Regions from separate parts of the Homo sapiens genome. Here region 2 is linked to region 1. A link means that fine-mapping ties the variant in region 1 to the expression of a gene that starts in the linked region. Tissue or cell type: whole blood. Region 1 holds a variant in brackets; the other region holds the start of a gene. All regions are shown on one strand. Distances are from middle to middle.

What was found. PIP is the estimated chance that this variant, and not a neighbour inherited with it, causes the effect.
Region 2: DTNB starts here. The variant in region 1 is fine-mapped to the expression of DTNB in whole blood (TOPMed, PIP 0.91).

What each region holds. Positions count from the first base shown.
Region 1 is chr2:25,529,520-25,537,623 of GRCh38, reverse strand. It overlaps DTNB (dystrobrevin beta), which reads left to right. Exons shown (of 21, transcript NM_021907.5): 9 at 6,027-6,151. Among named protein-coding and RNA genes, the nearest start is that of DTNB-AS1, 110 kb to the right of the region's middle. RefSeq lists an enhancer at 1,681-2,510. The variant C/T (reference allele first, on the strand shown) is at 3,970.
Region 2 is chr2:25,668,639-25,676,742 of GRCh38, reverse strand. DTNB (dystrobrevin beta) reads left to right here and starts at 3,166. Exons shown (of 21, transcript NM_021907.5): 1 at 3,166-3,357. RefSeq lists an enhancer at 771-980 and silencers at 3,129-3,423, 2,788-3,717.

The DNA.
Region 1 (8,104 bases):
TTAAGGAAATCCCTTATTCATGTGTTTAGACAACCTAATTGGATACATAGTTTTAAAATTTTTAGGGTAATCTCTTTTTTGGTTTCTCCTAGGCCTTAGTTAATACTCTAATTACATGTCTTTATTTCAGTCTTTTTTCCTTCCCATACATACCAAGCTGCCCTTGATGTGCCTTAATTATTTGGAATTCATCTTGATGTATTGATTTTACCTTTCTATTTCATGGCTATTATTTTTAGGATGGAGCTAAAGTAGTCTGTGTGATAATGCATTTCACATACATTGCATGAATTAATGGCAGATATAGCAAAAAATCATGAAATTAATACATGGATGACAGATGCAGTGTTTCATTATAAAGGTAAAAGTAAGGTGTTCTCTTTGATGTCCTCTGATTGCATCTACTTGTAATCCTCAAAAAAAAAAAGATTTATATGGTTTTACTAGGTAGGTAAAAGCAATCTGGAAAATTCATCTAGGTAAATAATTTGTTCAAATACAAAGATGAATAAGATGTAGATCCTACCCCTCAGAAGCAGCAGTATAACAGAGATGGACAAACAAATTAAAAATTGCAGTATGGGGCCAGGCACGGTGGCTCATGCCTGTAATCCCAGCACTTTGGGAGGCTGAGGCAGGTGGTTCACGAGGTCAGGAGATTGAGACCATCCTGGCCAACCAGGTGAAACCCCGTATCTACTAAAAATACAAAAATTAGCCAGGCATGGTGGCACGCGCCTGTAGTCCCAGCAACTCAGGAGGCTGAGGCAGGAGAATTGCTTGAACCCGGGAGGCGCTGGTTGCAGTGAGCCGAGATCACCCCACTGCACTCCAGCCTGGTGACAGATAAATAAATAAAAGCTCTCCCTCTCCCCTCTCCCGTCTCCCATCTCCCCTCTCGCTCTCGCTCTCTGTCTCCCTCTTTCTACCGTCTCCCTCTCTTGCGGAGCCTGGACTGTACTGCCATGATCTCGGCTCGCTGCAACCTCCCTGCCTCGGGCTCCGGTGATTCTCTTGCCTCGGCCTGCTGAGTGCCTGGGATTCCAGGCACACGCCGCCACTCCTTAGGGGTTTTTGTGTTTTTGGTGGAGACGGGGTTTCGCCGTGTTGACCGGGCTGGTCTCCAGCTCCTGGCCTCGGGTGATCTGCCCGCCTCGGCCTCCCGAGGTGCTGGGATTGCAGACGGAGTTTCACTCACTCATTGCTCAATGTTGCCCAGGCTGGAGTGCAGTGGCGTGATCTCGGCTCGCTACAACCTCCACCTCCCAGCTGCCTGCCTTGGCCTCCCAAGGTGCTAAGATTACAGCCTCTGCCCGCCCGCCACCCCGTGTAGGAAGTGAGCAGCATCTCTGCCTGGCCGCCCATTGTCTGGGATGTGAGGAGCCCCTCTGCCCGGCCGCCCCGTCTGGGAGGTGAGGAGTGCCTCTGCCCGGCCGCCACCCCATCTAGGAAGTGAGGAGCATCTCTGCGTGGCCGCCCATCGTCTGGGATGTGAGGAGTGCCTCTGCCCGGCCGCCCCGTCTGGGAAGTGAGGAGCGCCTCGGCCCAGCCGCCCCGTCTGGGAGGAAGTGGGGAGCACCTCTGCCCGGCTGCCCCGAATGGGAGGTGAGGAGCGCCTCTGCCTGGCCGCCCCCTCTGGGAGGTGAGGAGCGCCTCTGCCCGGCTGCCCCATCTGGGAGGAAGTGAGAAGCGCCTCTGCCTGGCTGTCCCGAATGGGAGGTGAGGAGCACCTCTGCCTGGCCGCCCCCTCTGGGAGGTGAGGAGCGCCTCTGCCCGGCCGCCCCGTTTGGGAGGAAGTGAGGAGCACCTCTGCCCGGCTGCCCTGAATGGGAAGTGAGGAGTGCCTCTGCCTGGCCACCCCCGTCTGGGAAGTGAGGAGCGCCTCTGCCCGGCAGCCACCCCGTCTAGGAAGTGAGGAGCGCCTCTGCCTGGCCGCCCATTGTCTGGGATGTGAGGAGCCCCTCTGCCCGGCCGCCCTGTCTGGGAGGTGAGGAGCGCCTCTGCCCAGCTGCCACCCCGTCTAGGAAGTGAGGAGCATCTCTGCGTGGCCGCCCATCGTCTGGGATGTGAGGAGCGCCTCTGCCCGGCCGCCCCGTCTGGGAAGTGAAGAGCGCCTCTGCCCAGCAACCCTGTCTGGGAGGAAGTGGGGAGCGCCTCTGCCTGGCTGCCCCGAATGGGAGGTGAGGAGCGCCTCTGCCTGGCCGCCCCCTCTGGGAGGTGAGGAGCACCTCTGCGCGGCCTCCCCGTCTGGGAGGAAGTGAGGAGCGCCTCTGCCCGGCTGCCCCGAATGGGAGGTGAGGAGCACCTCTGCCTGGCCACCCCCGTCTGGGAAGTGAGGAGCGCCTCTGCCTGGCTGCCACTCCGTCTAGGAAGTGAGGAGCGTCTCTGCCTGGCCACCCATAGTCTGGGATGTGAGGAGTGCCTCTGCCCGGCTGCCCCGTCTGGGAGGAAGTGAGGAGTACCTCTGCCCGGTTGCCCCGAATGGGAAGTGAGGAGCACCTCTGCCCGGCTGCCCCGTCTGGGAAGTGAGGAGCACCTCTGCACGGCCACCCCGTCTGGGAGGTGAGGAGCGCCTCTGCCCGGCCGCTCTTCGTCTGGGAGGTGAGGAGCGCCTCTGCCCGGCCGCTCTTCGTCTGGGAGGTGAGGAGCACCTCATTGTCTGGGCGGTAAGGAGCGCCTCTGCCCACCCGCTCTTCATCTGGGAGGTGGGGAGTGCCTCTGCCCGGCCGCCCCGTCTGGGAAGTGAGGAGCGCCTCTGCCCAGCCGCCCCATCTGGGAAGTGGAGGGCACCTCTGCCCGGCCGCTCTTCGTCTGGGAGGTGGGGAGTACCTCTGCCCGGCCACCCTGTCTGGGAGGTGAGGAGCGCCTCTGCCCGGCCGCCCATCGTCTGGAATGTGAGGAACGCCTCTGCCCACCCGCCACCCTGTCTGGGAGGTGAGGAGTGCCTCTGTCCGGCCGCCACCCCGTCTGGGAGGTGAGGAGCACCTCTGCCCGGCCGCCCCGACTGGGAAGTGAGGAGTGCCTCTGCCCAGCCGCCCCGTCTGGGAAGTGAAGGAGCGCCTCTGCCAGGCCGCCCCATCTGGGAAGTGTACCCAGCAGCTCCGAAGAGACAGCGACCACTGAGAACAGGCCATGACGACGATGGCGGTTTTGTCGAAAAGAAAAGGGGGAAATGTGGGGAAAAGAAACAGAAATCAGATTGTTACTGTGTCTGTGTAGAAAGAGATAGACATAGGAGACTCCATTTTGTTCTGTACTAAGAAAAATTCTTCTGCCTTGGGATGCGTTAATCTATAACCTTACCCCCAACCCCCTGCTCTCTGAAACATGTGCTGTGTCCACTCAGGGTTAAATGGATTAAGGGCGGTGCAAGATGTGCTTTGTTAAACAGATGCTTGAAGGCAGCATGCTCCTTAAGAGTCATCACCACTCCCTAATCTCAAGTACCCAGGGACACAAACAGGGCCGAAGGCCAAAGGCCGCAGGGACCTCTGCCTAGGAAAACCAGAGACCTTTGTTCTCGTGTTTATCTGCTGACCTCTCCACTATTATCCTATGACCCTGCCACATCCCCCTCTCTGAGAAACACCCAAGAATGATCAATAAATACTTAAAAAAAAATTAAAAAAAAAATAAACGCTGCATTTCCAAAAAATAAATAAATAAATAAATAAATAAATAAAAATAAAAATAAAAATTGCAGTGTAGCAGCAGTATAGCATGGTGAGTGCAACAGTGGAAACAGGTACAGGTAAATGGGTAGCCTGGAAAGGCACTTGCTGTCGTATGGAGCAGTGAGGAAAGTCTTCACAGAGGAAAGGATGCTGACCAGCAGGCTTGAGAGATGAGAAAAAAATGTACAGAAAGATAGATTGGGAAAGGGAGACCTGGGAAAGGCACATGCCAAGATACAGAGACCTAAAAGAACACAGTGTATTTTGAGTCAACTGTGAGCAGCTTATCACTTAA[C/T]GTGAGTGGGAAGTAGAAAGAGAGAGAGGCAGGAGTCAGGTGTGAAAGCTTTTGTATGGAAAATGAAGGCATTTATTTAGATCTCATTCTGTAAGTGACTATCAGCCTTTGATGGATGTTAAGCAGAAGAGTGACATGATCTCTGGGGGCAGTGCAGAAACGGTTTTAATAGGGGAAGAATCAGCGTCACATCACGACTTGTTGGGCAAAAGGAAAATGGAAAGAAGTTAGGGGAGAAGTTGAGAATTTCTATGTTTCGTTTTATATACTTTCAGGAAATTAGGTTACATCTAGACTTTTCCCAGAATGTTTTTCTTTTCTTTTCTTTGAGATGGGGTCTCACTCTGTCGCCCAGGGTGGGGTGTAGTTGGCACAATCTCAGCTCACTGCAGCCTCGTCGGCCCGGGCTGAAGCGATCCTCCCACCTCAGCTTCCCGAGTCACTGGGATTATAGGCACATGCCACCGCACCAGCTAATTTTTTTGATACTTTTTGTAGAGACCGGGTTTCGCCACGTTGCTTAGGCTGATCTCAAACTCCTGGGCTCAAGAGATGCACCCGCCTCTGCCTCCCAAAGTGCTGGGATTATAGGAGTGTGCCACTGTGCCTGACCAAGTTTTCCCAGAATTTAGTATGTTGACGGGAATAGTAGAAGGTGATTTGGAGCCAATATACGAAGTTTCTGAAGAAATTGTATTATTTAGTCTTTATTATAAAGTATTCATTAACTGTGCCTATATGGTCTTTCAGGCAAACAGATTTTTACTTTGTGTTAAAATACTACAACAAGCAGCATATAGAAGTCTATTGGGGACGTGGCATTGATGAGGCAGACAGCTGCAGCCATGTTTTATTTTCCAATTAAAGTGGCACATATGATAATAAACTGCAGAGGCAGCAGAATGAAATATTTAAACTTTTTTACAGTTAATATCCTGCCAAGAAAATCTCAGATAACAGTGTTATTTTAGGGGAATTGGGTGGACGGTATAATCTGTATAAAAGGAGCCTCCTTTAAATATGAGTTTTAGAAGTGAATGTTCTGTGTAACCTAATTGTGGCATGTTGCTTACTTTTGTGCTTATTTATGATTAAATCTTAGACTTGGTAGTCTTTGGTGGATATTATTCTACCTTCCAGAAGAATGTATTGGTATGCCAACTTATTTTTGTAATATAGAGTCCTGGGTCTGGTGCTGCCTGTGTATTGTGAATGTACTCTGTATCTGTATCTGACTGCATAACCAGACCCCTAATATCAAATGTTCTGCCTCATGTTTATTTGGGAATATCCTAACATCTTGGGGATGTGACTTACTTAGCTAATTTGCTAACATCCATAAGCTGTGTGCTCTTAGCCTTTTAGTATCGTAGCCCATCAAAAAGTTCTTTTTTTTTTTTTTTTTTTTTGAGACAGAGTTTTGCTCTTGTTGCCTAGGCTGAAGTGCAATGGCGTGATCTTGGCTCACTGCAACCTCCGCCTCCCAGGTTCAAGCAATTCTTCTGCCTCAGTTCCCATGTAGCACGGATTACAGGCATGCACCACCATGCCTGGTTAATTTTGTATTTTTAGTAGAGACATGGTTTCAACATGTTGGTTGGGCTAGTCTCAAACTCCCAACCTCAGGTGATCCACCTACCTTGGCCTTCCAAAGAGCTGGGATTATAGGTATGAGCCACCGTGCCTGGCCTCCATCAAAAAGTTCCGACTCTGATCAGGAAATTAATGTTAACATCTTAGCAAAAAGGATCCAGAAGCATCAAAGGAGGGAGTTCTTGCCAAGAGTACATAGAGATGTCCAGAAGGAAAGTTGACATTACTTGATAGTGTGACTTTATAGTAAACATGAGGGAGGAACTGCAGAAATGAAGGACCACAGATGACCTTGGAACAACTGGAGGTTCCTTTCTGAAAGGCCCAATGATATTGATGTAATGAAACTTGATTTGTATTTGAAAAGATGTTTTTACACTCTTGTCACAAAGTTTTTTTCTTTTTTGAAGTTCCTTTCATTCTTTTGAAGGGTTAATTCCTTACTATTTTCTGCTTTGACACAGAAATCTCCTGCAAAGAAGCTGAGCCATGCAATTAGTAAATCTTTGGGGTGTGTACCCACGAGAGAACCCCCGCATCCTGTTTTTCCTGAGCAACCAGAGAAACCACTTGACCTTGCACATATAGTGTAAGTATACCCCTGGATGTGCATGTGGATCACACTGAAATGGGGGCCTTGTGAAATTCCTGTGGATCAAAACCAGGGATCACTTAACATGACCATTCAACTTCTCAGGTTTTTACTTTCTTTTGTGGGAACTTAAGACTTCAAGCTTTCTTCTCTGTAAATCACCGTTAAGTGTCCACATGGAAATCTAGCTCCTGATTGCTGAAGCCTGAGTAATATGGCAGCCTCCAGAAACATGAGCCCATTGAAGAGCCATTATTGTTCTGGTTTTAGCTGGGCTGCCTTTTGTGATTTTGGGTTCATTCCTTAAATCAGTGGCAGAGATCTTTTTCTCTATAGCAGTAATGCCCATAGGGACTTAAATTAATGTAGACAACATGGAAATGAAAATCAACTTAATTTGCTGTTTTTTGTATTGAGGGAAAATTAGGAAACATAAGACTATATTCTACAAATAAAACTGGTATTTTGTATGTATTTATTTATATGTATTTAGTTGAATATTCATGCTAGTAAAGCAAAGCTAGAGGAGAACAATAAAGTTGAGAAATAGAGAAAGAACAAAGTAGGGAGGAAGAGAAACAGTGAAGGGTAAGATTCAGCCTGTAAACTGCTTTCTTCACTCTGAATTAAATGATGATACTATGCTTCCCTGATGAATAAATTTGGTAGAGTTTTGGATCACGAATCTTTATCAGGTGTCAGAAGTTTTTCTGTTGGAGTGGGCATTCATTTTCTTTCACCTCCCTGATGGAAGGTAGTTTGACTAAATGAGCTCTAGAGAATCTTGATCTTTTTTCCTTTTTTCTTTCAATTATTTAGATACCTGTTTATATTTATTAAAATAATCCATGCATGTGAATTACAAATTCATTCATCCATAAGAGCTTATAATGAATGCAACATACCCTCCCACACTTCGCTGTCCTTTGGGTTTTAAATCTACTAATAGTTATCTCTGTATTTCTAAATAATATGTTTGGAGCACCATTTCTTGACTTATCAGTTTTAGACATTATTATCATTATTATTTTTTGAGACAGGGTCTCGCTTTGTCACCTAGTCTGGAGTGCAGTGGTGTGATCTCGGCTCACTGCAGCCTCCACCTCCCAGGTTCAAGTGATCCTCCCACTTCAGCCTCACAAGTAGCTGGGACTATAGGTGCAGGCCACCATGCTCAGCTAATTTTTTTTAATTTTTAGTAGAGACGGTGTTTTGCCATGTTGCCTAGGTTGGTCTTGAACTCTGGGTTCAAGTGATCCACCTGCCTCAGCCTCCCAAAGTGCTGCGATTACAGGCATGAGCCACTGCGCCCAGCCAGTTTTAGACATTATTGACTTACTTTTGTGGTGTAATGAATCAGCCTCATCTCTAACTCTACATACCAACCCATCCCTGTTTTTCATAATTATATCACCATTTTTAAGTTGGTTACCTTTTTAATTTTAAATAATATTTTAAAAACTCTATTTCTTAATAACTTCTTTTTGACTTCCACTTTGTAAACAGAAAATTAGCACCTTCTGTCTACTTTTCCTTTGCCTCCTAACGTCTGCCATCTGTGCCCTTATTTTTATGTTGTCAAAGCTGAGAATGTTTCTATTCTCTTCGATAACCATAACTAAGTCTTCTGAGATTGATCAAGGGTTAAATCTAATAAAGCCAAATAATGGCATTTACAGTTAGTATCCTTCATTACACAGTCACATAGTGTGCTGCAATTCTGTGGATCCTTTTGTGCAGTTACTGTCTCATTGGAGTTCACTGGGCTCTTCTTTCTTACCTACCATTGATTACCGAAAATCATTCCTATTGAATTTTTAACTGGATTGATTTTCTTGTACAGTTGTTGTTTTTCCTGCGGTTTCTCATTGCTTTCTTCTTCTTGGGAAAAAAGATGTCTCCCACCCCTACACAGTGTTCCATAGCACAGTTTATCTGTTCCCCATAATG
Region 2 (8,104 bases), 140 kb before region 1:
GAGAGAATGGGCAAGGGCTAGATTAAGGGAAGTGCTAGACAGTGACACCAGGGGTGGTAAATTTTTGAAAGCTTTCTCTAATCTGCAGCATGGAAGATGGATTGGAAGCAGCAAGACTGGCAGGGAGACCACATAAAAAGCTGCTGCATGGCCAGGCGCAGTGGCTCACGCCTGTAATCCCAGTACTTTGGGAGGCCAAGGCAGGTGGGGATCACTTGAGGCCAGGAGTTTGAGACCAGGCTGGTCCACATGGTGAAACCCCGTCTCTAACTAAAAATATAAAAATTAGCCAGGCATGATGATGGGCATCTGTAATCCCAGCTACTCAGGAGGCTGAGGCAGGAGAATCGCGTGAACCTGGGAGGCGGAGGTTGCAGTGAGCCAAGATCGTGCCACTGCACTCCAGCCTGGGTGACAGAGCGAGACTCCGTCCCAGAACAAACAAACAAAGCTGCTGCATTAGTTTAGGGGAGGTGGGCTAAGAGGGAAAGATTCTAGTTATTTATTTATGAGGAAGCATCAATGGGACTTAGTGGTTGTTGGGTATGGAGTCAGGGCAGAGGGGTGGTGGGAGAAGAAGGAATCAAGAATGGCCCCCCAGTTTCTGAATTGGTCAACTGGGTGGACAGTAGTTTAGACATGTAGAACGTGGGGTACCTCTAGGACACCCAGGTGGAGAAGTCTGGCGGGCTTTTGTGAATAAGGAACCCAGATGAGTGGCCTGAGCTAGAGAGAGTGCACTTGGGAGTTGCTGATATGCGGTAGATAAAGAAGCGGAGTGGATGGAATGGTCCAGGGAGAATGTGTGGCGTGAGACCAGCTGAGGAGAGAATCTGTGAAACTGAGAAGTGGTCACAGGGGTTAAGACAGGAGTCATGCCATGACACCAAGGGAGTTTCAGAAAGAGTGGGCTACTCTGTTCAATGTCACTGAGAGTTCTAACAATATGAGGACTCAGAGATGGCTTGTGGTATTTAGGATCCAACAAGCCATTCATGACTGAGAGCAATGCAGTGATGTGGTGTGGACAGAAACTACATAGGTTTGAGGAGCTGAGGAGCTGCTGAGGAGGTAGAGATGAGGGTAGATGACTTTCAAGATATTTATGAAGGAAAACTCAGAGAGGGACTAGTAACTGAAGCAGAATCTAGAGGGACAGCGAAAGGGTTTCTTCCTTTTTCTTGAGGACAGGAAAAGCTTAAACATGAATAGATGATGAAGGAAAGAGACAAGTAAAGAGAAGTTGGTAATTTTGGAGTGAGAGGGGGAGAATGATTGAAAGGTGTTTGAAAAGTTTTCTGAGGATGTGGGAGGTGAAGAAATAGAGAACAGAGATGGAGAGATGCCAATACAGTGTCCTTGAAGTATTTAATTCCCTTATGGTTTAGGATTGTCTAGTCCACATATTGAAATTACCTTGGTTTCAATCAATAAACCGAACATATCAAGCGATATTTACACATTTATTTTATATTATTTACACATCTTTTCTCCAAAGAACAGAATCAATGTTTTACCCCTCTCAATGCCTTCCACATAGGGGGTGCTCAAAAAGGGCAAATAAAGAAGCTAGAGGTCTCTTACCTGTATTCTGAGTATCTTAATATGTACAAAACATAGCCAAGACCGTGCCTACAAGAGATAAGTCTCCTCAAGCATGAAAATATTCACACACTTCATATATGTAAGGTAAAAGGTAAAATGTCCATCTTTATTTATTTATTTTGAGACGGAGTCTCACTCTCTTGCCCAGACTTGGAGTACAGTGGTGCGATCTCGACTCACTGCAACCTCTGCCTCCTAGGTTCAGGCGATTCTCCTGCCTCAGCCTCCCAAGTAGCTGGGATTACGGCGTACACCACCACGCCCGGCTAATTTTTGTATTTTTAGTAGAGACAGAGTTTCGCCATGTTGGCCAGGCTGGTCTCGAACCCCTGACCTCAAGTGATCCGTCTGCCTCAGCCTCCCAAAGTGCTGGGATTACAGGCGTGAGCCTCCGCGGCAGGCCAGAAAATGCTCATCTTTTGAGGAACCTATTTGTTCCCATTTAACAAAGTTGGTTATCAGCATTTCCTTCACCATAGGAGTTTAAAAATAAAAAGAGGAGAGGAGGAGGAAGAGGGTGTTCTAAAGGCAGGCAGGCAGGCAGGCAGGCAGCAGCAGGAGGTGGCACGATCTGCCTTACCGTAAGGTGCCAAAAAGCAGTGAAAACCATACTCCCAGCATGCAGGCCTGGGGTCGCTTAGCTCTGGAGCTTACAGCCTTCATCATTGACCAATAGCCCCCAAAGGACGTTGCTGTTTTGAGTCTTAAGTAACGTTGAGAATGACCATTTGAACCATTCAAAAAGTCCTTGCTATATTCTAATTTGGCACCATCTCCTGTATTTCACAGTTTGGAAAGAATTCTATAAAAGATGGATAACAGTAAAACACAAAAAAGCTGGTGCTGAGATGGTAAACCTGGCTGCCCCGGCTCCTTTGCCCAAACTGTTTTCCCAGCCCTAATGTCCTCCCTTTTTCCTCCTAGGACTTCTTTTTCTTCCTTCGAGGTTGACCATAAATGCCGCCTCTAGCCCTCTGCGGCGTCCAAGCAGAAGTCGTCTCTAGCTTCTGTGCCAGCATCGCACCGTGGCTTGGCTCTGCACGGGTCATCGGACTTGGTTGTGTACATGGCTGTTTTCCCCGCTAAGTTTGGGGCGCCTCGAGCCCAGGCGCCGTGACCGTGATCGTGCGCCCACAGGCACCTGGTGCAGCGCGGGGCGCACGCCGCGGCTGGGCTAGCTTGCGGAGTTCACGGGGGTCACTCGGGCACAGGCTTGTGACCCAGGCGCGGAGAATGATTCACGGGGTGGCTCTTTGCATTCTTTGTCGGGTAGTCACGTCGGGCCGGGCACCCCGCCGACGGATACCTGCGGATGGAAAGACACCCGGCCCGACGCCAGCGAGCGGGAGAAGCCTGGATGGAGCCAGCTTCCCGCCTGCCCGGAACCCGCCGGCGACCGGTGGGCGGGGCGCGGCCGCGGGGGCGGGGTGGAGGGGGGTTGCTCGGCCGCTCCCGCCCCCTCCCCGCGCGCGGAAGCCACGCCCCCGGCCGCGCGCTCGCGCTGGGCGCGCGCCCGCCCATCCGCCCTCCGCCCTCCGCCCTCGCGCCCTCGCGCCGGGGGCGGGCGCTGCGCGTGCCGGGCGGAGAAGCGGCGCGAGCCGGGCGCTGCGAACGTTCGCCGCGGGGGTGGCTCCGGGGCCTGAGTAGGCGCTGCCGCTGCCTCAGCCGAGGGGGCTGGGCCGGAGCGTGCGGAGGAGTGAGGCCGCAGGAGACCTTCCCGACGACCCCTGCTCCGGCGGGGAAGTGAGCAAGGTGGGGGTCTGCGGCCGCCGCCGGGGCTGTGGGGAGACGAGCTGGGCTGGAGCCTCGCGCCCGCGAGGTGCGGGACGGCAGCTCGCGCTGCGCCGGGACTGGGGACCCGGGAGCCTGCGGGTGCGGCGCTGCAGGAGTCGGGGAGGGCGCGGGGAGCCGGGGCCGCTGCACCGCGCGCGGCTGCGAGGTGGGACGGCGCGGCTAGCCCCGGAGGGACAGGCAGAGGGGATGCGGCGGATCCCGGGCCGGGAGGGGTATCGGGGTCCGGAACGCGCCGGGGCACGGGCGCGAGCGGGGGCCCGGCGCCGGGCTGATGCTGCCCGAGCCCGGCTCGCCTGGAGGCGGCTCTGCGTTAGGTGCTGAAGGGGCGAGTGAGGCAGGTCCTGGCAGAGGGCAGGTGAGGCGGGCAGGCCCTGGCAGAGGGAAGGGTATTTATTTCAGATCACCCCAAATCACTGTTTCCCGAGGCGCCTAATAGCGAACCTGTCCAGGAGGTCACCCTGGACAGGAAAGAAGTGTCCCGAGACGAGGATGCCGGTGACGAATACTTGCCCTTAAATTCCTGTGCCAGGCCTTGGGATTAGGAAGACCTTCCAGCTACCGTAGGTAGAGACCCGTAGTCAGCACTGGGGCCACGAAATAGTATGGAACACCGTCATGTTATTGAGGTGCTGACAGTGTGGCTGTGAAGATATGCACATGAAATACAAAGGAGCGTCGAATTTTATGTCGCATGCCCTATTTACTTTCGGTCTCTTTTGTCTTTTCCCAGTATTGGGAAATTGGAGCCATAAATTGCGTGGTTTTGGGGATAAAGCAGAAAGGTCAAAAGAAGCCTATGGGAGAAATTTGGGAGAGTTTTGAAGGCTCCTACGGGTAACATTTAAAGGGGGCTCTTAGATGGGGAAAAAAGACGTTTGGAAAGAAAGGAAGTTTCCTTCCTTCCCATCTAGAAATAAGCTCCATGACTATTGACTGCTAAATCTTCAGAATGTTGCCTGGCTCACAGCGGTTGAGCCATAAGTGTCTATTGCATGAATGAATGGACAAGCAAGGTTTGGCCACATTTGCCATGGAGCAGTGTCAGTCACTCTAGTGTTAGGGAAGGTTGCTGGATTTCTCCTGTTCCACAAGTTCTCTCTCTCTGCCTCTTTTTTTTTTTTTTTTTTTTTTTTTTTTTTTGCTATGCGAGGCAACCCCGGTTCTGAGGTCTGGGCACGTTAAAGCAATGGCTAAGGCGGCGAGGTCTTGGTTTCTGTGGCCATGCTACCACTTTCCCATGTGTCTTTCATGTTGGCCTTCAAGAGCTTGCTCCTTGGCCTGTTGCTTGAGATCATCCCATTTTGTTCCTTCTCCCATTGGCTTTTTCTATTACTTGAGAAGGAAGAGGGTAGTGTTGTCTAGAGAACACTTTTTCATTTTGGTCCTGGTTCTTGGGTCTTAGACCTGTAGTGCGAGGCTGTTGGTGCCTCTGCTTTTCTGTAAGGGCTGGAATTCTACCTGTGCTCTGCCTTGGTTGAATCTCTGAACTCTGGAGCTCCAGGCTGCTGTTTCAGTAACCTGGGTTGCAGTGCCTGTTGGGTTACTTTGTCTGCCAAATTAAAACTTGACCTTTTATGAGTTCTCTAAGGATTTTTATCATGCATAAGTGGAATTGCCTTTGAAAGGGGTTGTGCAGTCAAGGTAGTGCTGGCAGAGTTTTTGGATGTCCACTATGCCCGAGAGACAAATTTCTACCTATGGTTAGAAAATTAGACTCAGAACCAAGAGAATTTCAACTTATTGTTTATTTTATGTCTTTATGTTACTCTCTCAGGGCCTTAGTTTCTTCGTGTGAAAAATAAGTAATAATCAAAATCTGGCATTGTATAGGAAGCCTTGAAGAAGTAAATTTATTTCTCCTGTTTCAGGGCTGTACAGCCAGCAGGTCTCTTGTTGAGAGGTGCCTAGGTTCTACAATATTGGGTGCCTTATTCCAGGCTCTCTCAATGATATTTTGTTTATGTATTTATTTTAAAACCAACTTTTTGACGTATAGTTGACAAAATAAAATGCACAGATTTCCCGTGTGCGGTTGGATGAGTTTTGGAAAAATGTGTACAGTAGTCCCCCCATTAGCCTCAGGGATATGTTCCAAGAGCACCAGTGGATGCCTGAAGCCACAGTTAATTCCAAACCCTATATAGACTGTTTTTTCCCTATACTTAAGTATCTATGATAAAGTTTTAACTTATAAATTAGTTGCCATGAGAGATTAATGACTTCTCTTAGGCATATGTTTGGCTTCTCTGTGGCATATCCCAATTGCCAGCATCACTACTCTTGCACTTTATTATTAAGTAAAACAGTGGTCACTTGAACACAAGCACTGTGATACCATGACAGTCAATCTGATCATTGAGACAGCTACTAAGTGAGTAACCAGAAGGTGGCTTATGCAGTGTGGATATGCTGGAGAAAGGGATAGTTCATATCCCAGGTGGGACAGAGTGGGATGGCACAAAATTTCGTCACGCTATTCAGAATGGTACACAACTTAAAACTTACAAATTGTTTATTTCTGAGGGGAGACTGCTGTATACTTTGTAACCACCATTCCAATCAAGAAATTTCCATCACCCCAGAATGTTCCCTTATGCTGGTTTGCAGTCCATTCTCTATCTTCCCTACTCCCTTTTATTGATTTCGAATTACACGAGCATCAGAGCTGTGGCACCTAGTTGTGTAGATTGTATTCTGCCCAGCTTTAGGGAGCACCATTCACATTGGAGTCCTTGTGCCTGGCAGCTGCTGGAGTTGTGTAGTGCACACTCTGTGTGACTGTGTGCTGCAACTCTGCAGGTGGCTCAGAACACACACTCACTTGTCAGATACTCAAACAGTACAGACAGAATAAAGGCCCCCTTGACCTACTCACGGAAACAAGTTATCAGTTTTTGTGGTCTTTCCAGACTATTCTCTATGTATTTTCATGTATATATAGGGAACACAAACTCATCTGATACTCAAAACAGTATAGACAGAATAAAGGCCCCCTTGACCTACTCACAGAAACAGAAGTTATCAGTTTTTGTGGTCTTTCCAGGCTATTCTCTATGTATTTTCATGTATATATAGGTAATACAGAATAAAAAAAGAGCAGAGTTTTTTCTCCTCTGCATTAATGACATCATACCATACACATTGTTCTGCAGTTTTTTCCCCTAACAGAATGATTTTGAGATTTTTTCATGTTGGAACACAGGAATCAACCTGAGTCTTCTTAACTACTACACAATCTCTTATGTAGTATGTATCGTAGTTTATTTAGTATTCTCATTAAGGACCGTTGCTGCAGTGAATGAAAAACTACAGTTGCTGGGTCAGAGGTATGCGTTTTACTTCATAACTGATGGGGCTATAACCATGTTGCTGCTTGTGGATTTAATCCATTTATTTTCAACTGCTTAGTGTATTCAGTTGTAGGCTTTTTTTTTTTTTTGAGATAGGGTCTTCCTCTGTCGCCCAGACTGGAGTGCAGTGGCACTCCAGGGCTCAAGTGATTCTCCCAAGTAGCTGGGACTACACTTGCGTGCCACCATTTAAAATTTTTTGTAGAGATGCAGTCTCGCCATGTTGCTCAGGCTGGCAAGTGATCCTCCCAAAGCGTTGGGATTACAGGCATGAGCCCCTGCACCTGGCCCGGTTGTGGACTTACATCACAGCGCACGTGTCCTTTTACTCACTGAGGAACAGTTGGGTTCCTTTAGATGCTGATTCTTCAGTGGGTCTGTGTGTTGCAAATGCATCCTGCCAGCCCTAGGCTTTTCTTTCCCTTTGTTAACAATGTATTTGGTTGTATATACCATTTAAGTTTAATGTCATATTTATGAAAAATTTCCCTTAAATGGCTTGTCTTTTTTTGGGTGTGTATCTGGTTTAAGAAAATTTTCTGTCTCTCATGGTGTTAATGATATATTCTTAGAGTTTCTTCCAAAAGTTTAAAAAAGTTTTGCTTTCCAGATGGAATTTATTTCTATGTATGGTATAATGAAAAGATACAATTTTTTTTTCAATTTGGATGACCAGTTTTTCAGCACTCTAACTTTTTTTATTATAGTAAAATACACATAACATAAAAATAACAATTTTAACCATTGTAAGTGTACAGTTCTGTAGCATGAAATACATTCACATTGTTGCACAGCCATCACCACTGTCTCCAGAGCTTTTTCATCATCCCCAACTGAAACTCTGTACCCCTTAAACACCAGCTCCCCATTCTTCCCTCAGCGCCTGGCAACCACCATTCTACTTTCTGTCTCTATGAATTCGACTACTCTAGGTACCTCATATGAATGGAATCATTACAATATTTGCCCTTTTGTATCTGGCTGATTTCACTTAGTATAATGTCCTTAAAGTTCATTCATATTGTAGCATGTGTGAAAATTTCCTTTTTAAGGCTGAATAATATTCCATGGTATGAATATACCACATTTTGTTTATTCATTCATTGATGGACATTTGGGTTGTTTCCCCGTTTTGGCCATTACAAGGAGTGCTGCTATGAACATTGGTATCTGTATGTCTGTTTAAGTCTCTGTTTCCATTTCTTTTGTGTATGTACTCAAGTGCAATTGTCAGTAATACAGTTTTTAAAACAATATACATAATGGAATAAAAATAGATTAACACAATTTTGACCAATGTGGCTGAATAGTATGGAGTTTCCATATACCCACTCTTTCCCATATGGTTTCTCCTA